Homo sapiens: one gene and its partners. The protein of the gene in region 1 interacts with the protein of each later gene in a pairwise test. Each region holds a gene or a part of one and is shown in the gene's direction. Other genes may lie near its edges.

Evidence for each region. The genes of interacting proteins can lie anywhere in the genome.
Region 2: the proteins of MADD (region 1) and VPS13D interact in a two-hybrid assay, tested with the Homo sapiens proteins (one study listed by BioGRID and IntAct).
Region 3: the proteins of MADD (region 1) and PTPRN interact in binary tests that used the Homo sapiens proteins (3 or more experiments, as listed by UniProt).

Annotation. Positions count from the first base shown.
Region 1 is NC_000011.10:47,287,133-47,294,154, forward strand, and holds part of MADD (MAP kinase-activating death domain protein), read left to right. Parts: intron 1-1,835; coding exon 1,836-1,895; intron 1,896-2,258; coding exon 2,259-2,361; intron 2,362-2,656; coding exon of another isoform or gene 2,657-2,734; coding exon 2,735-2,921; intron 2,922-3,016; coding exon 3,017-3,167; intron 3,168-3,477; coding exon 3,478-3,684; intron 3,685-5,410; coding exon 5,411-5,464; intron 5,465-6,357; exon of another isoform or gene 6,358-6,750; coding exon 6,751-6,851; intron 6,852-7,022. UniProt on the Homo sapiens protein: Guanyl-nucleotide exchange factor that regulates small GTPases of the Rab family. Converts GDP-bound inactive form of RAB27A and RAB27B to the GTP-bound active forms.
Region 2 is NC_000001.11:12,225,387-12,233,029, forward strand, and holds the start of VPS13D (intermembrane lipid transfer protein VPS13D), read left to right. Parts: upstream 1-4,643; 5' UTR 4,644-4,734; intron 4,735-7,643. UniProt on the Homo sapiens protein: Mediates the transfer of lipids between membranes at organelle contact sites. Functions in promoting mitochondrial clearance by mitochondrial autophagy (mitophagy), also possibly by positively regulating mitochondrial fission.
Region 3 is NC_000002.12:219,299,402-219,306,423, reverse strand, and holds part of PTPRN (receptor-type tyrosine-protein phosphatase-like N isoform 1 precursor), read left to right. Parts: intron 1-2,592; coding exon 2,593-2,689; intron 2,690-3,586; coding exon 3,587-3,848; intron 3,849-3,932; coding exon 3,933-4,287; intron 4,288-4,704; coding exon 4,705-4,836; intron 4,837-5,446; coding exon 5,447-5,481; intron 5,482-6,164; coding exon 6,165-6,439; intron 6,440-6,637; coding exon 6,638-6,724; intron 6,725-7,022. UniProt on the Homo sapiens protein: Plays a role in vesicle-mediated secretory processes. Required for normal accumulation of secretory vesicles in hippocampus, pituitary and pancreatic islets.

The DNA of each region.
Region 1 (7,022 bases):
GACCAACATGGCGAAACGCCGTCTCTGCTAAAAATACAAAAGTTAGCCATCTGGTGTCACGCACCTGTAATCCCAGCTACTTGGGAGGCTGAGGCAGGAGAATCGCTTGAATCCAGGAGGCGGAGGTTGCAGTGAGCCGAGGTCGCGCCACTGCACTCCAGCCTGGGTGACAGAGCAAGACTCCGTCTTAAAAAAACAAAAAACAAAAAACGAAACCTTATTTGAATTGGTTTGTGCTATCTGACAGTTTCAGGGGCTTTTCTGAATTTGATTTTTTATTTTTTTTATTTTCTGAGACAGTGTCACTCCGTCACCCAGGCTGGATGGAGTGCAAGGTGGTGATCTTGGCTCACTGTAACTGCCGCCATCCAGGCTCAAGTGATTCACATGCTTCAGCCTCCCGTGTAGTTGGAATTATAGGCACATACCACCTCGCCTGGCTAATTGTTGTATTTTTAGTAGAGACGGGGTTTCACCATGTTGGCCAGGCTGGTCTTGAACTCCTGACCTTGAGTGATCTGCCCACCTTGGCCTCCCAAAGTGCCAGGATTACAGGTGTGAGCCACTGCACCTGGCCTGATTTTTTTGTTTTCTCTGGATGGTATGACGAAATATTTAACTGTGGTAGGAAGTGCAGTGAGAAACATGTATTTTTTTTTTTTTTTTTTTTTTTTTGAGACAAGAGTCTCGCTCTGTTGCCCAGGCTGGAGTGCAGTGGTGCAATCTTGCCTCACTGCAAGCTCCGCCTCCCGGGTTCACACCATTCTGCCTCAGCCTCCTGAGCAGCCGGGACTATAGGAGCCTGCCACCACGCCTGCCTAATTTTTTGTATTTTTAGTAGAGACAAGGTTTCACCGTGTTAGCCAGGATGGTCTCGATCTCCTGACCTTGTGATCTACCCGCCTTGGCCTCCCAAAGGGTTGGGATTACAGGCGTGAGCCACCGCACCTGGCCAACCTCATGTATTCTTTAACTGACCTCTCATTCCTAGTGGTAAAAAATGTCAGGTTACTTGGGTGCAGTAGCTCACACCTGTCATCCTAGCTACTTGTTAGGCAGAGGCAGGAGGTTCATTTGAGCCCAGGAGTTTGAGGTACAGTGAGCTATAATTAGGCCAGTGCACTCCAGCCTGGACGACAGAGTGAAACCCTGTCTCTAAAAGAAGCCAACAGAAACAAACAAAGTTGTCAGGAGTCTAAGACATGTTCTTAGGTGAGGATGGGAACATTGGATAAATGGGCAAAAGGACATCAGAGCTGGCAGTGAAAGGAGCGAACTAGCACTGCCAGGGAATCCACATGTGGCCGGGTAGGCTAAGGATGGAAGGGTGTCAGTGTCACTGGCCTTCATTTGGTACATTTGAAGAGAAGAGCGATTGAAACTCTTTCATTGCATGCTGATGCTTTGTCGCATTTGCTGCACTTACCCTCTCACCCATCTCCCATCCTCATACCCTGACCCCACTCCCCACAACAGCATCTGCAAGATGGGTTGCTTCCCTGCACATACCCTCAGGCCCCTGGCCCTCTGTGCTGGATGTTTTCTGAAAACCAGCGGTCCCTGTTTCATGCATGTGTGTGTTCAGTACCTGAAGGCTCCCTGTGTCATTTACCCGCCCCTGGCTTGAGAGGCCAGTTTTAAGGGTGGTCTTTTCTTAGAGCCTTGGTTGTCTCCTGGTCACTTGGCTTCCAGCTCTGAGGTGCCCAAGAACCAAGGTTATGTGCATTCCTCAAGCTTTGGGAGAATGCTCAGATTATCTGGCTTACTGCTCCTCGGAGGGGTAGAGGGGTTGCGGTATTGTGGTACACCTACTAATTGTGTATTTTGTGTCCCAGTATTTGGGCTAAATACTCTAATGGAGATTGTTACTGAAGCCGGCCCCGGGAGTGGTGAAGGTGGGTCTTGCCTGTGAGCTGTGCATGATCTTTTTTTTTTCTCTAGCATCTTCTGTGCCTGCCCGAGGGCCATCCTTCTCATGGAGCAAGCAGCGTCACATGAGTGACCTGCTTGCCCCGTCCCCCGTGACGCCCATGCTTGCCCATGGGGCTTGCTGCTGGTGCATGTGGAGTGGCCTGAGTCTCCATCCCCACCTCCTCCACATTGCCATGGCTGGTTTCTACCTACGTATGATGCCTTGGTGCTACCCTCACCCAGCCCTTCTGAGGAACGGGCATGGAACATGGCTACTTAGGGCTGTGCTGGCATGAGCTCCTGTACTACAATAGTGATGTCTCTCATTCCTGCCTTCCCTGCCACAGGAAACAGGAGGGCGTTAGTGGATCAGAAGTCATCTGTCATTAAACACAGCCCAACAGTGAAAAGAGAACCTCCATCACCCCAGGGTCGATCCAGCAATTCTAGGTAATAAATGGTAGAGCTGTTTTAAAAGTTCTCAGGCAGAGGTGGGGTGGTTCCTCTACAGAACTTTAGGGATGCTCAAGAGTGGGAGAGAAGCTCTCAATGGGGTAGATGTAATCAATTTCTTGCCAGCACTTCTCATTCTGGCTTGATCTCCATGCAACTGAAAGCTTACAGTGTTGAGGGGGGTTAATCAGCAGCGGTGGGTATTTGGACAAATCGCGTGCTCCAGAGAGGTGGGGATGTGGTGCACTTGGACATTCAGAGACATGGCTTTGTGTTTTACCCCTGGAGGCAGACATCTAGTCTGGGTGAAAGGTGGGGGGTGCTCTGCAAAGGAGCTGATGACCACAGAAGCGGTGTGTGGACCCTGTAGTGAGAACCAGCAGTTCCTGAAGGAGGTGGTGCACAGCGTGCTGGACGGCCAGGGAGTTGGCTGGCTCAACATGAAAAAGGTGCGCCGGCTGCTGGAGAGCGAGCAGCTGCGAGTCTTTGTCCTGAGCAAGCTGAACCGCATGGTGCAGTCAGAGGACGATGCCCGGCAGGACATCATCCCGGATGTGGTCAGTGTTGGGGGTAGGGAATCGGAGTAACTGGAGAGAGGGATGTGAACACCACAGGCAATTTGCCAACGCTAGCCCCTGGGTTATTGTTGCAGGAGATCAGTCGGAAGGTGTACAAGGGAATGTTAGACCTCCTCAAGTGTACAGTCCTCAGCTTGGAGCAGTCCTATGCCCACGCGGGTCTGGGTGGCATGGCCAGCATCTTTGGGCTTTTGGAGATTGCCCAGACCCACTACTATAGTAAAGGTAGGGATCGTACTTGCTGGGCACCACGCCATCCCTAACTCTGCCACTTGTCTCCTGAAGAGAAAATATATGTGTACCCAGGACACGTTTCCCAGTGCCACGCTGCTTCCCATTAGGCTTTGGGATTTTATTTTCTAATGCATGTTTATACGCAGTGGGTATTCTTTGTTACGAAAAATAAGACATCAGCTCATCTTTCCTTGAACTTCTTCCATTCCGCACCCTCCTGTATCCTGGCTCCTCCCACCTCATATCTGCGCCTTGATTCCTACTCACTACTTCTCTTGACCTCTTGATATTTTTCCCTCAGAACCAGACAAGCGGAAGAGAAGTCCAACAGAAAGTGTAAATACCCCAGTTGGCAAGGATCCTGGCCTAGCTGGGCGGGGGGACCCAAAGGCTATGGCACAACTGAGAGTTCCACAACTGGGACCTCGGGCACCAAGTGCCACAGGAAAGGGTCCTAAGGAACTGGACACCAGAAGTTTAAAGGAAGAAAATTTTATAGCATCTATTGGTACGTATCAGTGTGTTTGGTGTGGTGGAGGGGTCCTGGCTTCTTAAATATCCCTTTCTCCTCAATTCATCCAGAATCCTGCCTTTCTCTGCCCCATGCTTTGCTTCTTAGAGAGGGAAGGGGGCCTGTGTCCATTTCTGGTGGTGTTTCTTTGTACTTCTCTAGTCTTTATGCTTCATCCACAGCCACCCCCCACCCCGTATCTTAGATGAAGAATGGTAAGTTTTGTTTAGAGGGCCCAATGAGGCTTACTGCAGGGGGTGTGAGCTGTACTCCTGGCCCCTCCTTTTATTTACGTCTGCATTTCTTCACATAGTGGAGAGAATTCCTGGAAGTGCTCAGGAAGTTTATAGATGCATTTTTGGGCTATAAAATTATGACATTTGTGTCTCTGAAGCCAGTGTCCTCCCATCCAACCATTATACTCCTCTGGAATGTGCTCCTCTGGGGCATGCCTGGCAACCCCATTTCCCTGGGTTCTGGATCTTTGAGGTATAGGTTTCCAAGTCAGTTCTTTAAATGCTTCTTCACTGGACTTGATTATAATCTCGTTTACATTTGGTGTTTCTCCGTTCCCACAAAGGCAGTGCCTTAGTGAGCTTTCTAGGCATCACCTCTGTTTGGCTCACTCCCTGCTTGACCTTGAGTCATCGAGGTTGGATCTTTCTTTTTCTGGTTCTAGGTCCCTAGGCACTCTGCTTCCAGCTGACATCTCATTGCCATGGCCATTAGCAGTTGCCATATGCTCCCATAAATGGTGACATGGAACCAGATTCCTTTTTAGGGGAGCTACACTTCCCTAGCCAGCAGAATATTATTCTAGTAGCAGTCAACTCCTGGCTTTCTCCTGCCTCATGTGATGTTGTAGAAAATGTACTGACCTGCTAGTCTGGAGATCTGGAGTTTTAGTCCCATATCAGCCTCCAACTAGGAATGCAACTTTGGGCAAATAACTTCACCTCTCAGGGTATCTGTCTCTTCATCTGGGAAATGAGGAAATCATACTAAGTACACTCTGAAGTTCCTTCCAGGAAAAGAATTGCTGTGGTTGCCATTCTGTCTGCTTTTCCCTATGAAGATGCTGGTCTTGACCATTTTATGTTCTCTGTCACCTCAACTGGAGGCATTTTTCCAGATCACTGGTGGGTAGGGCAGGTAGGGGTGAGTTGGTTTCTTGAGGAGCAATGAGGAGGGATGCTAACTGCCTGCATGAATTGGCCTTTGTTCAGTCCAGTGAATCAAGCAAAGATTGGTGTTCTTCCTTCTGAAACTCTGGCTGCTTGAGGTGTTCATCTGTCTCATCTGGAATCTGAAAAATTGCCCTTCCCCAGCTCATTTGGTAGAGAGAGTGTGTGGCATGGTGGGAGTTTAAATGGATCCTAAGTTACATGATCTTGATCAAGTGCTCCAGCCTCTTTAGGACCAGTTCCTCATGCAAAAATGAAGGAGCTTTGTTAAGGGCACTTCCAGCTCTAACATTCTGCAGGGTTTTTACTGCCACATTGGGATTGGAATTAGAAATTTGGAATCTGTTCATGAGTTTGGGTGGAGGGGTTAGATCTCTTGTTTTCTGCCCCTTCTCCCCATGAAGATATCTTTGTATCTCTTGGTTGGTAATCCAGTGCCTGAGACTGAATCGACTTGGGTGGGTGGGTTTCCATTTCGTCTGTCTGACCAGCCTCTGACTTTCTGTCTTTCTCTCCTGCTTGCATTGCATCTGGGGTAGAATTGTGGAACAAGCACCAGGAAGTGAAAAAGCAAAAAGCTTTGGAAAAACAGAGTAAGGAACAAATGCCCTTTCCTGTTCCCAAGTCCTCCATACCTGCCAACTCCCCAGGCCCAGTTGGGGCAGGCTCCCTTTGTCAGCCCCACCCCAAATTTGCTCTTAGAGCGTGTTTGGAATGGCAGCAGGTAGGTAGCATGTGACTCCTAGGTGTGTGTAGGCCGCTTCTTTCCCCCTCCCCTCGTGTCAATCAGGCTATAACCAGGTGTCTACTGAATACAACTCCCCAGAACTTGGTTCTCTGTTGCTTCAGAGTTGGTGGGGAGAATGTTTGCCTATTTTAGTGCCCCCCATTGGCTGATATCTCCCACACCTGTTAGAAGGCCTGTGGGCACAGTTGGCAGAGATGGTTGCTGTCCCTCCATGTTGAGTCTGTAGCTGCCCCACTCTCTGGTGGCTTGCCTAGGCACGCTTTCTTGCTTTCTGTCATTCTGTCTTTCTGCCATACCATTGTGGGTGGGTGGGGGACAAGGGGGGTGGTTTTCATCTCAAACATAGAAGTTGTAGGATGGAGGTAGGCAGTGCCCACCAAAACAGCTGGTGTTTCTTATCTCATCGGGCCCAACCTTTTCTACCTCCTTTAGACACATTTGTTTGGGAAGCATTAAGGGACCTGGGGACCATTAAATGGTTTCAGGTACCAGTGAAGCTCAGACTCTTGAGTGCCATGGAATGTGGTTTAGACATTTGTTCGTGGAGCTTTTCTTTTTTTTTTTTTTTGAGATGGAGTCTTGCTCTGCTGCTCAGGCTGGAGTGCAGTGGTACGATCTTGCCTCACTGCAACCTCTGCCTCCAGGGCTCAAGCAATTGTCGTGCCTCAACCTCCCGAGTAGCTGAGATTACAGGTGTGCATCACCACGCCCGGCTAATTTTTGTATTTTTTGGTAGAGACAGGGTTTCATCATGTTGGCCAGGCTGGTCTCAAACTCCTGACTTCAGGTGATCTACCTGCCTCAGCCTCCCAAAGTGCTGGGATTACAGTCGTGAGCCACCATGCCCAGCCTTGTGGAGCTTCTCTGTTTTAAGATGATTTGCTCAGAATTTTCTCAGGTTGAGAAGATGGCTGGAGAACCCATTGAGACCAGGTCTGATTTGTCCTACTTGGTTCTTAAGGCATCTGGGGTCCTCTTTTTCCAGTGGGTCCTGAGTGGGGGGTAGTCCTTGGAAAGGTGACTAGGATGGGCTGAACGGGTCTGGGAACAGCCTGTGCTGCCGTCCCACCCCCTTTACCAGCCTGCCCCTAGCCTTTGTGCACGGAGTAACAGAAGTCTTCCCCTACTCAGGGCCTGAAGTAATCAAACCTGTCTTTGACCTTGGTGAGACAGAGGAGAAAAAGTCCCAGATCAGCGCAGACAGTGGTGTGAGCCTGACGTCTAGTTCCCAGGTTTGTGACAACCTTGTTGAAATTTGCAAGTATTAAATATGCTGTCTCAGAATACTTCTTTAAGTTAAAATAGAACAGTCAGACAGCCGGGCACAGTGGCTCATGCTTGTAATCCCAGCACTTTGGGAGGCCGAGGCGGGTGGGTCACCTGAGGTCGGGAGTTCGAGACCA
Region 2 (7,643 bases), on another chromosome or scaffold:
CCCAGGCGGGAGTGCAGTGGCCTGATCTCAGCTCACTGCAAGCTCTGCCTCCCAGGTTCACACCATTCTCCTGCCTCAGCCTCCCAAGTAGCTGGGACTACAGGCGCCCGCTACCATGCTCGGCTAAATTTTTTGTATTTTTAGTAGAGACAGGGTTTCACCATGTTGGCCAGGATGGTCTTGATCTCCTGACCTTGTGATGCACCTGTCTCGGCCTCCCAAAGTGCTGGGATTACAGGCGTGAGCCACTGTGCCCGACCACCTTTAGGGTTTTTACGTGGGCATGATTGACTGAATAATTGGCCATTGGTGATTGAACTCAATCTCCAATCCTCCCCGCAGGTCGGAGGCGGTCAAAGAGTGTGTGTTTTTGCGTGAGATAGGCCCACCCTCTCTCTAATAACATGGTTGCTCCCTCTGGAAACCAGCCCCATTCTGAAGCTGTCTAGGGACTTTCAGCCACCAGTCGTCTCAGGAACCTACGAAAAGACACTCTTATCTCTCTGGAGATCCTGGTGGTCCCAGGAACTCTTGGGTTGGGAACTTGGGGATGTTGACCAAAGAGTATAAAGTTTGGGCCAGGTATGGTGGTCACGCCTGTCATCCCAGCACTTTGGGAGGCCGAGGTGGGTGGATTACTTGAGGCTAGGAGTTTGAGACCAGCCTGGCCAACATGATGAAACACCGTCTCTACTAAAAGTACAAAAATTTGCCAGGCGTGGTGGTACATATCTGTAATCTCAACTACTGGGGAGGCTGAGGCAGGATAATCACTTGAACCTGGGAGGCAGAGGTTGCAGTGAGCTGAGATCGCGCCACTGCACTCCAGCCTGGGCAACTGGGTGACAGAGAGAGACTCCGTCTCAAAAAAAAAAAAAAGAAACAAAACAAAGAGTACGAAGTTTCAGTTAAACAAGAGAAAGAAGCTATAGTGATCTATTGCTCAGAATGGTGACTATAAGAAATAATACATTGCATATTTCAGAATTGCTAAAAGAGTAGGTTTTAAATGCTTTCATCTGGCCGGGCGCGGTGGCTCACGCCTGTAATCCCAGCACTTTGGGAGGCTGAGGCGGGCGGATCACGAGGTCAGGAGATCGAGACCATCCTGGCTAACACGGTGAAACCCCGTCTCTACTAAAAATACAAAAAAAATTAGCCGGGCATGGTAGCGGGCGCCTGTAGTCCCAGCTACCCGGGAGGCTGAGGCAGGAGAATGGCGTGAACCCGGGAGGCGGAGCTTGCAGTGAGCCAAGACAGCGCCACTGCAGTCCAGCCTGGGCGAAAGAGCGAGACTCCGTCTCAAAAAAAAAAAAAAAGTTTTCATCCAAAAAAGTATGTTAGCTGATGGATTTGTTCATTAGTGTGAATTAATCATTCCACATTGTAAATAGATATCAAAACAGTGCACTGTAGCCCATAAATATATACAATTATTTGTCAATTAAATTTTTGAAAAAAGCTGTGAGCAGTGTCTCCTGCCTGTAATCCCAGCACTTCGGGAGGCCAAGGTGGGAGGAATGCTTGAGCTCAGGGGTTCAAGACCAGCCTGGACAACATGGCAAAACCCCATCTCTACTAAAAATACAAAAATTAGCCGGGCGTGGTGGTGCACGTCGGGAATCCCAGCTACTCGGGAGGCTGAGGCATGAGAATCACTTGAACCTGGGAGGCAGAGGCTGCAGTGAGCCGAGATTGTGCCACTGCACTCCAGCCTGGGCGACAGAGTAAGATTGTCTCAAACAAACAAACAAACAAACAAACAAAACCCCCCAAATCAGCTGGGTGTGGTAGTGCATCTGTAGCCTGTAGTTCCTCTGACAGTTTTGTCTTTTCTGGAATTTCACAGAAATGAAATCACTACGGTATGTGGTCTTTTTCCACATAGCTAATACTTTTGAGGTTCCTCCAGATCGTGCCTGCGTCAGCCCTACTCACCTTTTTGTTGGTGAGTAGTGCTCCATTGTATGACTATGTTGCAATTTGTTTGTCCACTCTCCTGTTGATGGACATTTTGATTGTTTTTTTTTGTTTCTGGCTTTTATGAATAAAGCTGCTATGAGTGTTCATGTATAAGTCTTGGTGTGGGCATATGTTTTAATTTCTCTTGGCTAATATCTAGCAGTGGGATTGCTGTATGGTAAATGTATATTTAAACATTTATAGGAAACTGGGGGCACGAAGACTTTCAGTAATACTGGTCGAATCAATGGTGCCCAGGAATTTGCATTTTTGAGACAGGGTCTCTGTTGCGCAGGTTGGAGTGCACAGGCATGATCATTGCTCACTGTAACCTTGAACTCATGGGCTCAAGCAATCCTCCTCCCAGTAGTTGGGAGTACAGGCATGTGCCACCGTGCCCAGCTAATTTTTTCATTTATAATTTTTTGTAGAGATTGGGGTCTCCTTATGTTGCACAGGCTGGTCTTGAATTCCTGGCCTCAAAAAATCCCCCCCACTGCCTTGGCCTCCCAAAGTGCTAGGATTACTGGTGTGAGCCACGGTGCCAGGCCATGTGCAGTATTTTTTTGGATTTTTTTTGAGATGGAGTCTTGCTCTGTTGCCGAGGCTGGAGTGCAATGGCGAGATCTCGGCTCACTGCAACCTCTGCCTCCTGGGTTCAAGCAATTCTCCTGCCTTAGCCAGGAGAGTAGCTGGGATTACAGGCACCTGTGACCATGCCCGGCTAATTTTTGTATTTTTAGTAGAGATGGGGTTTTGCCAAGTTGGTCAGGCTGGTCCTGAACTCCTGACCTCAGGTGATCCACCCACATCTGCCTCCCAAAGTGCTGAGATTACAGGCATGAGCCACCGCGCCTGGCCTGGGCCATGTGCATTTCTAACAAGCTTCCCAGGTACAGCCAATTGTCTGTGCTAGGTGATCTGGACTTCGAGGTCCTTCACCTCTGAAGGACTGCCTTCCTTCCTCCTTCTGTCTGTGGAGTTCCAGGTTTTACTCCCAAACCTCAGCCCCAGAGGAGACCCAGCATCCAGATTCTGAGAGGTTGATCCCACCATACAGGAACCCCAGTCTTGCTCAGGAGTGAGTCAGCCCAACATGCACCCTCATTAGCTTAGCATCATGAGGGTTGGTAATTATTATGGTAAATACATGATTGTAACCTTGCCGTTCTGCTTCCTGCATCTTCTAATTTATATGAGCCTGAGGTCTCCCTCTTGCCCTTCTTGTGATAATGCAAGGAGGAAGTGTTCAGCTGTTCATTCATACACACTCATTGAGTCTTTTCTGTGCTAGGCAATGTCTAGGTGTTGAAGAAACACTGTGAAAGGGATAAAATCTCTGTTTTCAAGGTACTGGGGAAAGAACAACATATGTATAAACAAACAAGATAATCTCAGGGAGTATTAGGTTCCATGAATAAAATACAACAGGGTAATGGATAATGGAACTTTATTTTTATTTTCATTTTTGAGAGGGAGTCTCACTCTGTCTGGAGTGCAGAGGGGTGATCTCGGCTGACTGCAACCTCCGCCTCCCGGGTTCAAGTGATTCTCCTGCCTCAGCTTCCCCAGTAGCTGGGACTACAGGTGTGCACTACCACGCCCGGCTAATTTTTGTAGTTTTAGTAGAGATGGGGTTTCACTATGTTGGCCAGGCTGGTCTCAAACTCCTGACTTCAGTGATCCGCCCGCCTCAGCCTCCTGAAGTGCTGGGATTACAGGCATGAGCCACTGTGCCCAGCTCATAATGGAACCGTAGATAGGCACAAGTCCTCTCTGAGTGGAATATTTGAAGCCAGAGGGAGTCAGCTATACGAATATCCAGAGCTATTCTGTAGCTCTGGATTGGCCACAAGAGGGTATTGAGCACTGGAATTCTGGCTAGTTTGTACTGAGATGCGCAGTAAATGTAAAATATACCCGAATTTCAAAAACTTACTATAAAAAAGTTAACATATTGTATTAGTAATTTTTTCTTTTGGCGACATGTTGAGATGATCATATTTTGAACATATTGGATTAAATATATTAAAATGAAGTTCATTTTCTTCTTTTTCGTTTAAAAAAAATGTACTAGCTAGTAAATGTGGATTGCCTATGTGGCTGGCATTGTGTTTCTATTGGTCTGAGGAGAAGGGTCCTAGGTAGAGACAACGGCAAAGGTACAGTTCCTGGGGCAGAAACTGAAGGATGCTGAGGCAGAGTCGGCCGGGGAAAAAGTGGCTGAAATGGGAAGGGACCAGATCCAGTGGGACCTTGGTGGCAGCTCTGTAAGGAGGTGGGTTTTAACTGAAGTACGGTGGGGACGCCGTTTTAAGCAGGGAAGGGCAGGGTCTGAATTAACAGGCCCCTGTGGCTGCGAAGTGGGGAACGGACTGTGGGTGAGTGGGCCAGACGGACGGCCAATCGCACCTTTCGCTTGGATGGAAGGCAGGGTGGTTGTAGGTGGGAAGAATCCTGGGTTCCCATGCTGTCTGAACCAGAGTCATTTGTGGCCCTGCCCTCCCCTGGGACTCAATTTCCCCACCTATAAAATAAGCCCCAGTGTCCGCGAACCCTGGAGGGGCCCGCACCACTGCAGGAGCGGCCGCCGGCGCCAGGGGGCGCCTCCTCGATAACTCGGCGCTCGGCTGGCCAGGCACCGGCGCGTCGGCCGCTCGATTGGTCGGGTCGGGGCCGGCCTGAGCGCCGCGGGCCTGCGCCATTGAGGAGCGGCGGGGAGGAAACGCCGCGCAGCGCCGGGCTGGGGCGGGCGGCCCGGGACACCGACAGGTAGGGGCCGAGCGGCTCCGTGCCGGGCGGGGCCAGGGTCGGGAACTGCAGGGCCGGCGCGGACCCGCGGGCCGCCGCTAGGGCTCCGCCTGGACATGGGGGCCCGGGCCCACCCTGGGGAGAGCGATGCTAGGAGCCTGGGGGCCCCGTCGTCCGGCCTCGGTCTGAGCCCCTCGGGGTAACCCTGGGCGTCTGCTCCCCCCGGGCCCCAAGCCCGCCACCTCCGGGGACCCCTGCGTCCGAGTCCCCGCGAGCTCCCCAAGCACAGGCTCGGGGCTGGCTGAACCTCTGGGAACCCCGACGTCCGTGTCCTGGGGAGCCCGAGCCCCCGCTGGACCCCGGCACACTTTCCGGGGTCCCAGCAGCCTGGCGCCCTGGAATTGGGGGGTGTCAGTCCGCGCCTGTCCGCCTGAGCCTTGGTCTCAATGCAGGACCCCAGTGTGCGAGCCCCCCACATTACGCCGAAGAGTGGGGTGTCAGTTCTCTAGAATGCCTTAGCCACCTCCCTTAATCAGCCACCCGAGGTCACACTCTCGCGTGGAGACATCAGGCCTAAAACCTCTCTTTACCTTTTGCCCCCCAGGGTCACGCCCTGGCCCAGCCACTCCTCCTAGGTGTGGGATGCCAGACATCAGGCCTAAAACCTCTCTTTACCTTTTACCCCCCAGGGTCACGCCCTGGCCCAGCCACTCCTCCTAGGTATGGGATCCCGGCGCCGTTCCCTCCAGGTTTTACTTGGGTGGTGGGGTCTCTGTCCCCTGGAGGGGGCTGAGGGTTCCGAGAGCTGGGGGCGGGAGGGTTGTGGGAGCGTCGCCTTCCGGGCAGTGCCGTTCCTGTGGGGCCACCGGTCGCACAGCCGTCCCCGCCCCGGTTTTGGAGCTCCCTGGCGCCGGCAGCGTTCAGCCCTGGCCGCCTCGGGGAGGGACGCCCAGGTCCGGTTGCCAGTCCTTCCTATTCCCGGTCTGGCCGCTCCTCAGGGGAGGGGCCTGGCTCAAGGTCATGCCCGGCTGTCTGCCCGCCCGTGGGCTCAGCACTGATCCCTACTGTCACCCGCCCCACTGGGTAGGGGAGCCCAGGTGGGGGTTAGTGCCAGTGCCAGGCAGCTGCCTAGAAGTCCTGATGGACCGGAGTGTAAACACTTTGGGACTCTGGCCAGTCTGGCGGCCCTTGCTGACACTGAATTCCTTCAGGGAATCCTTGAAGTGGCCTCAAGCACGGTCTAGATGCTTAGCAGAGCAAATAATGGGTGCTTTCTGGTTTGGGCCTCAATGTTACTGACCAGGTTGCCTCACAATGCTAATCACTCATGCTTTTAAAATCTGTGCTTTGCATTCTTTTCCGTTTAGGGCAAGTAGGGTAGGGCCTGAACTTGTTTACAAACTGACAGTTGTTTCCCTTGATTTGGAGATAATTGGTAATTGGCACTCAGAGTTGGCATTTAGGGCCGAAATTAGTGGCAATAACTACAAAAATAAAGAGTACTCTGACCTTGGCTTCTTGCTCAAATTTGTTTGGAGTCCCCATAGTAAGATTAGTCAGTTTCACATTTGGTTTTCACAAATTTACTCCTTTCAAGTTATAATAGTGGCCGGGCACGGTGGCTCACGCCTGTAATCCCAGCACTTTGGGAGGCCAAAGTGGGCAGATCGCTTAAGGTCAGGATTTCAGACCAGCCTGGCCAACATGATGAAACCCTGTCTCTACCAAAAATACAAAACTTAGCCGGGGATGGTGGCAGGTGCCTGTAATCCCAGCTACTCAGGAGGCAGAGGTAGGAGAATCGCTTGAACCCAGGAGATGGCGGTTGCAGTGAGCCGAGATCCGAGATCCCGTCACTGCACTCCAGCCTGGGCGAGGGAGCAACACTCTGTCTCCAGAAAAAAAAGTTACAATAGAGAAATGTTTCTTTTATTCAGACTGTTGAGCATTTTTTTTAAAAAATTGTTCTTATAACATCTTCTTTAAACAAATGTAGCTAATAATTAGTTTTATGTAACTCTACCCTTAAAAAATATCTTTATATTCCATTTGCAGAAAAAAAAATCTTTGGAAAGAAATTGGTCAAATATTTTACCAAATGCTGTTTTTTTCTTTTTGCTGTCACTGTTGACCAATAAAAGTTAATCTTCTCTGGAAGTACAAGATATTGTTGACAAACAAAAGCCAGTTTTTCCAGGAGATTGAATTCATTCTTGTGGAGGCCTTGTGCTTCAGGTAGTTGTTGGATGGCAGCCTCTCAGTTGGGATAGGTGTATCTTCTGGCACTAAGATGAATCACTAGAGGTGGGGCAGCGTGCTTGGAGAGGATCCTGAAAGTAGGCTGGCTCCAGTGGGATGCGTGCCATGGCAAGTCTGTAGTGCCTGGCAGGGTGGCTGATGACTGACATGGTGGATCAGAACAAGATTTGAGGCTCACAGTTTCCACTGGGATCTTCTAGTTGAGCAATCTCAGAACCCAGTTAAACTTTTGTGTCTCAGTTTCCCTCATGTTGACTTTTTGTAATACTAAAATTAGTCTTTTTTTTTTTTTTTTTTTTTTTTTGGTAATACTGGTAAACACCAGTTATTATAACAGGCAGTAGTACCTACAAAATCTAAATACCGTGGCTGGAGCCAGAGGATTTCTGGAGTTTGGGGTTTGTAATAATCGACTAAGATTGTTCATTGTATCAGCGTCATCTGGTGCCCAGGTACCAGTAATGCAGTTCCAGGACATTTAAGAACAGTGATAAAGCACTGTCGCCTCTCTCCCATGTATATTATTTTATAAGTGATCCTCATGAACAAATTTGAGACATTTAATTTGGGCGGCCTAAATGAGGATCATTAAAGAATGTGAATTCTCCCCCCACCCCCAACTTTATTCAGGTTTGTTTCATGAGTTTCTTTTTCTTTTTTTTTTTGAGATG
Region 3 (7,022 bases), on another chromosome or scaffold:
TATGGAGTGCCATTCTTTTGTTTCTTCACTTCTCTAATAAACTGCTTTCACTTTACTAAAACAAACAAACAAAAACTACCACAATAACTCAGATAAGAGATGAATGTGGATGGGGCCAAGGTGATTGCAGGGAAGGAATGAAGGATGAGAGAATTCTGCATTTATTTTTAAGGTAGTCAGCATTATTTCGTGAAATATTGGATATGGTTATAAAGAGAGGAGTCAAAGTTTTTTTGGGTTTATTTTGTTTGTTGATTGTTGTTGTTGTTGTTTGAGACAGAGTCTTGCTGTGTCACCCAGGCTGGAGTGCAGTGATGCAATCTCTTGCTCACTGGAACCTCCACCTCCCAGGTTCAAGTGATTCTCCTGCCTCAGCCTCCCGAGTAGCTGACATTACATGTGCGCGCCACCATGCCTGGCTAATTTTTGTATTTTTAATAGAGACAGGGTTTCACCATGTTGTCCAGGCTGGTCTTGAGCTCCTAACCTCAAGTGATCCATCTGCCTGGGCCTCCCAAAGTACTGGGATTACAGGTGTGAGCAACCGCGCTCAGCCAGGAGTCAAAGGTTTTATTTACTGAATAACTGAATCAGTGGAGATGTCACTAATTATAATGTGGAAACTTGCAAATGGTTCAACTTGGTGGGGGTGTTCAGCTTTGAATATGTTGAGTTTAAGATGTCTACTCAAGTGAAGCAGGAAGTTGAGTACATGAGACTGGATTCTGAGAGACAGAGTTCTCACCTGGAGATATAAATTTGGAATTCTTTGGCATATAGATGGTAATTACACCCATGAGGTGGATGAGATAACCAAAAGATTGAGTGTCTATTAAGAAGACCAAGGATCAAGTCCTAGATAATTCTTCTATTAAAAGGACCAGGCCAGGTATAGTGGCTCACACCTATAATCCCAATACTTTAGGAGGCTGGGGCAGGCAGGTCACGAGCTCAGGAGTTCGAGACCAGCCTGACCAACATGGTGAAACCTTGTCTCTACAAAAAATACAAAAATTAGCCAGGCATGGTGGCGAGCACCTGTAATCCCAGCTACTCAGGAGGCTGAGGCAGGAGAATCACTTGAACCTGAGAGGCAGAGGTTGTGGTGAGCCGAGATCGCACCACTGCACTCCAGCCTGGGTGATAGAGCGAGACTCCATCTCAAAAAAAAAAAAAAATGAGGACCAGGATAAAGAGAGGAACCATCAACTTCCTCTCAGGGAGACTGAGAAGGGGAAGCCAGTGGAGTAGGATTAAAAACAACAGTGTTCAGTGTCCCAGAAGCCAGGAGAAAGTGTATCAAGGAGGAGGAGTGACCAACAGTGTCAAATGATGATTACGGGATAAGTAAAATAAGATATGAAAATTGACCACTAGATTTGGACATGCAGACAAAGCTGCTCTTGATGAGAGCAGCTTTGGTAGAATAGTTGGGAATAAAATCCTGAATAAAGTGGATTAAGAGGGAATAGAAAGAAAGGAATTGGATACAGTCAGTATAGACAACTTTTTCTAGAAGTCTTGCTGCAAAGATATGGAGTGATCCCTAGAGAAGAAAGTGGGATCAAGCAGTATTTTTCTTAAGATGGAAGAAATTGCATATTGTTTGCATGGGAATAATGTGAATAATTCAGTAGAGAACAAAGGAAATTATGTAGGAAAGAAGAGAGAATTGCAAGGAGAATGTTCCTGAATAGGTGAGAGGGGATGAAATCTAGTGCTCAGAGGAACTGGCTTTAAATAGGAACACAGACAGCTCATCTAATGTGAATAAGCAAGGAGGCAGGTGTGGATGTTGGTAGATACCAGAATACAAGTTAAGAGCAGCACAGATTTTAAATCCAGAACTAGAGAAGAAAAAATGAGGGTGAAAAGTGGGAAATTATTCCTTTAGAATAAGTGACTGAACTTTCCTGAGAGCAGAGTTTTTTTGGGGGAAAGAGTCAAACAGGAGAGCTGTCTATGAATAAGATGATGATGATAATGGTGATGATGATGATGATGACGACAATGAAGATGATGATACATGTTTAAAACATGTGGATTATGCTTTAGAGTTTTCTAAGCACTTTGATTTCCCTGATCACACTTGATCTTCACAACAGCCCCCTGAAATATGTATCGTTTCCACTTTACAAACAGAGAAAGTTGAGGTTCAGGGTCAACACAAAGAATAATAACAATAGTAATAATAATTATGGTAATAGCATTTGTTAAAAGTTCACTACATGACAGGCACTATTCTAACCGTTTGATATGTATATGTGTTATTTTAATGATAATAACAATCCTAGGAGGTATAAATCCCCATTTTATTGATGAGGGAATTGAGGCTTGGAGAGGTTCAGCAACTTGCCCAAGGTTACATAATTCATCAGTAGCAAAGGCAGGATTCAAACCCAGGTGGTCTGGCTCCAATAGCTGTACCTGAGGGTGGGAAGAAGACAGCTCAGATCACCCACTGAGTTTGTCCCTCTACTCTGACAAACCCCATGAGCTGCAGGGCAGAGGGTACAGTTCTGATCCCCAGTGGTCCCCGTTACTGGATCCCCAGACTCCTGAACCAACTTACGCTGTCCTCTTTCCTGACAGGATTGTCCTGGCACGATGACCTCACCCAGTATGTGATCTCTCAGGAGATGGAGCGCATCCCCAGGCTTCGCCCCCCAGAGCCCCGTCCAAGGGACAGGTAGGCAGCCTTTCTCTACAACTCTAGCAATGGTGAGGCTGATGAATCTGTGGTTGTCCTAATTGATGGAGAGAAGGGGAAGGAAGTGGGCACCAAGGCCAGCATGCTGGGGCACAGGTAAAGAGGTGCAGGAATGGTCACTCTCTGACATGCTCACATGACCAAGAGGAGCTGAGCTCATCTCTAGGGATCCAGAAAAACGGGCATTTTTTGAATGTTTTGAAAAACATTGACATTGGCTACTTTAAAAGAAGCATCAATGTAGTCATCATGGGAGAAATTAGAATGCTGTTGGACTGAAGTTGTTCAATATTCCATTTCATTACTATGTGAATTTCTATATGACAGGAGCCACCATCATCTTTTTGTGGTTAGGGCCTCTAAAGGCATCATTCAGACTGCAAAGCAGAGGAAAGTAAATGAGGTTTAGGGAGCTCAGATGATGATACCAGGATGAAGATGGCATAGTGGTGGGGGGTGGAGGAGCAGTCCTGAATATTTGGACATATACTTGGAGAGCCAGGTGTGGGGACATGGCACACAGGGGCAACGGGGACAGCTGCAGCCACAGTTCATCTAGAGAAATTCCTGGTTGCCTTCCCCTGCTCCTGTTTGCCCCTTCTCCATCCCCAGCCTCATGATTACCCAGCCTTTGCAGTTGTTTCAGAGACTCAGCCATGCTCACCAGGGAGGCAGATACCTCTGCCCTCAGCTTGGCCCTCTGGTCCCTCCCCATTCCCACCCAGCCCATCTCTCTTCCCCTGAGGTCACTCAGTTTCTAAAGAGGTCAGGCCTGCTCTTAACCGCTGAGCCTGCCTGGCCCCGAATAGTTCTGCCTTGCAGGCTCTCTATGCCCTTTCCCCCGCTCCAACACACACACTTTGCTTTCCTCTACAGGTCTGGCTTGGCACCCAAGAGACCTGGTCCTGCTGGAGAGCTGCTTTTACAGGACATCCCCACTGGCTCCGCCCCTGCTGCCCAGCATCGGCTTCCACAACCACCAGTGGGCAAAGGTGGAGCTGGGGCCAGCTCCTCTCTGTCCCCTCTGCAGGCTGAGCTGCTCCCGCCTCTCTTGGAGCACCTGCTGCTGCCCCCACAGCCTCCCCACCCTTCACTGAGTTACGAACCTGCCTTGCTGCAGCCCTACCTGTTCCACCAGGTAAGTCCTTGACTCTGGTCCCACCCCAACCGCAGTCCCTCAGCCCGGACTTCTGCTCTTACCCAGATCTCTGGTTTTCCACAGTTTGGCTCCCGTGATGGCTCCAGGGTCTCAGAGGGCTCCCCAGGGATGGTCAGTGTCGGCCCCCTGCCCAAGGCTGAAGCCCCTGCCCTCTTCAGCAGAACTGCCTCCAAGGGCATATTTGGGGACCACCCTGGCCACTCCTACGGGGACCTTCCAGGGCCTTCACCTGCCCAGCTTTTTCAAGACTCTGGGCTGCTCTATCTGGCCCAGGAGTTGCCAGCACCCAGCAGGGCCAGGGTGCCAAGGCTGCCAGAGCAAGGGAGCAGCAGCCGGGCAGAGGACTCCCCAGAGGGCTATGAGAAGGAAGGACTAGGGGATCGTGGAGAGAAGCCTGCTTCCCCAGCTGTGCAGCCAGGTAACAAGGTCCTCAGCATCCACCTCCCTGTGAGGGCTGCTTTGGGGGAACCATGGTGGGGCCCTTCCCTGACAATCTATGCGTTTGTTAACTTGTCCTTAAAGTCATTCATACATTTAAGGAATGTCTACTGACAAGCTGTTCTATGCCAGGCACTAGGGAAGTGGTGGGGAGTGGAGTTGACGTGACTCTCCTTCCAGTGGAGAGTCAAGATGTCCTGAAGTTTGATCTGGGTCCCAGGAAGAACTTTCCCCCAAAGTGTGGACAAGGGCTGGGAAAGGGAGGGCATCTCTTGGTGTCCTGGTGTCTGGGAAGACTCTCTTAACATGCTAGTCCCTTCCCACCCTCACTCACTCATCTGCATCCCTCAAGTTCACTGCGCAATCAGCCCTAAGCTCTGTGTCTGGCTCCCAGCAGATGCGGCTCTGCAGAGGCTGGCCGCTGTGCTGGCGGGCTATGGGGTAGAGCTGCGTCAGCTGACCCCTGAGCAGCTCTCCACACTCCTGACCCTGCTGCAGCTACTGCCCAAGGGTGCAGGAAGAAATCCGGGTAAGTGTCCAGGCAGAGGGAGGGACCAATATCTCCCGGCTCCATGGAGGCCTCTTGCCCTGCCTCGAGACCACTTGGAGTAGCCTGGAGAGGAAGAGTCAGGCTTCAGGGGAAAGAGTTCCTTTGAGACATAGGGTCATTGCCAGCAAGGCAGGGAGCAAGGGGGTAGGGTGGCAAGCTTAGGAGTTAGATCAGGAAAAGACTAGATGGTGGAAGTAATGGAAAAAGCAGCCAACAGAGGGTGTGAGCAGGGAAAAGGAGGCATCGGGAAGGATGGGTTGGTGACAATGAGGGCCTAAAAACGGGCATAGCCAGTACTAAGAAGAAGCCAGTAATTGATGGGTAGAGAAATAACTGAACAAAGAATAGCTTTGAGAGAGATGGCCAATGGTAGAGGGAGGAGTTAATAAAACAGTAAATTGGGAGGAGGAAGCAAAAAGGAATGAGGCCAGGCTTAGGATGAGACCAGTAACAGGGTCTTGGTCACTGACTGAGATGAAGACCACAGCAAATGTTCCAGGCTCAGGGTCTCTGGCCCTTTCTCCCACTTGTGTTGTGTAGACCTTGGCCATGGCCATTTTTCCAGACTCTTGTTTTTCCTGTCTCGCAGGAGGGGTTGTAAATGTTGGAGCTGATATCAAGAAAGTGAGTCCCCAGCACCTCCTTGACTCATAATCACCCCATGGCAGCACGCCCCCTTGCCAAACCTAAATTTCAAATTCAGGACCTAGAATCTGTATCCTCCCACCCCTCATTTTGGGGGAAACCAAGGCCCAGAGACCGCAAGTTATTGCCTAAGGTCTCCCATCAAGTTGATGGCAGAACTGGAGCCAGAAAACTGAATTCTTAATTCATTCCTCTTTTCACTACAATCATTTCAGACCATGCTCTGAGGATTCCTAGGGGAGGAGGGAAGTTTCGAGCAGAGAGCCCTTCCTGAGCTTCTGTAGCAGGAGGAGCTCTGCTTCTTTCTGTTTCATGTGTTGGATTTCTAAGACTTTGTGGCTAAACAAAAGTCTAGAAACCATCGCCTGCCTGTTTGTCTTTTACCCTCACCCCAGCTTCTCTTGCTGCAGGGGTTTTCTGTCTCCAGCCCCATTCTGTGGATTAGTACAGACCATTTTCAATCATTCAATCCTTTATTCATTCATGCATCCACTTACTTGTCTCAGATGCTCTGGTGTCCTCTCTGTACCCAGCACTGCAGTGGTCCCTGGGGGTAGAAAGTGAAAAGCAGGTCCTGAGCTCCACTGTGGAGAGCTCCGAGTCCAGGGTACCCCTTCCCCCAGCACTGTCCAGAGGCCACACCTCCACCCTCTTCTGAACAGACAATGGAGGGGCCGGTGGAGGGCAGAGACACAGCAGAGCTTCCAGCCCGCACATCCCCCATGCCTGGACACCCCACTGCCAGCCCTACCTCCAGTGAAGTCCAGCAGGTGCCAAGCCCTGTCTCCTCTGAGCCTCCCAAAGCTGCCAGACCCCCTGTGACACCTGTCCTGCTAGAGAAGAAAAGCCCACTGGGCCAGAGCCAGCCCACGGTGGCAGGACAGCCCTCAGCCCGCCCAGCAGCAGAGGAATATGGCTACATCGTCACTGATCAGAAGTAAGGGCTGCATCCTGGGAAGCTTTCTGGTCTGCTAGGATTTGGGCTGGCCTGCCTGGCCAGAAGCAGAGGGCAGAAATCCAGACGTGCAGGGACAGGGAATTGGCAGGCTGCTCTGTACCCCTGGAGTGGCCTGTTTTAAGAAAGTGACTGAGAGGGTTGCCCCACTTTCCTTCCTCTGCCTTCTCCCATCTCCAGGCCCCTGAGCCTGGCTGCAGGAGTGAAGCTGCTGGAGATCCTGGCTGAGCATGTGCACATGTCCTCAGGCAGCTTCATCAACATCAGGTGGGGCTGGCATCTTGCTAGGGCAGTGGCCGAGATCTAGAAAGCAGCTTGAGCAAGGAGGTGGCTGGAGGGGCCTGCGGGAGGAAGAGCAGACAAGCTCTGAGCTCAGGGATGCTCCCAGCTGTACTGAAGGTACAGCCACACCCAGCCCGTTGCTGGCCCCACCCAGCATCTTCCTTGCCTAAGATGCCCCTGTAGGGCATCCCCGATCTGCTCCAGCCCCATCCTCTAACGGGGAGAGGGCCAGAGCTGGCCTCTTTTTTGAAGTCTGCGGTCTGGGGTGGAGAAGGCAGTAACA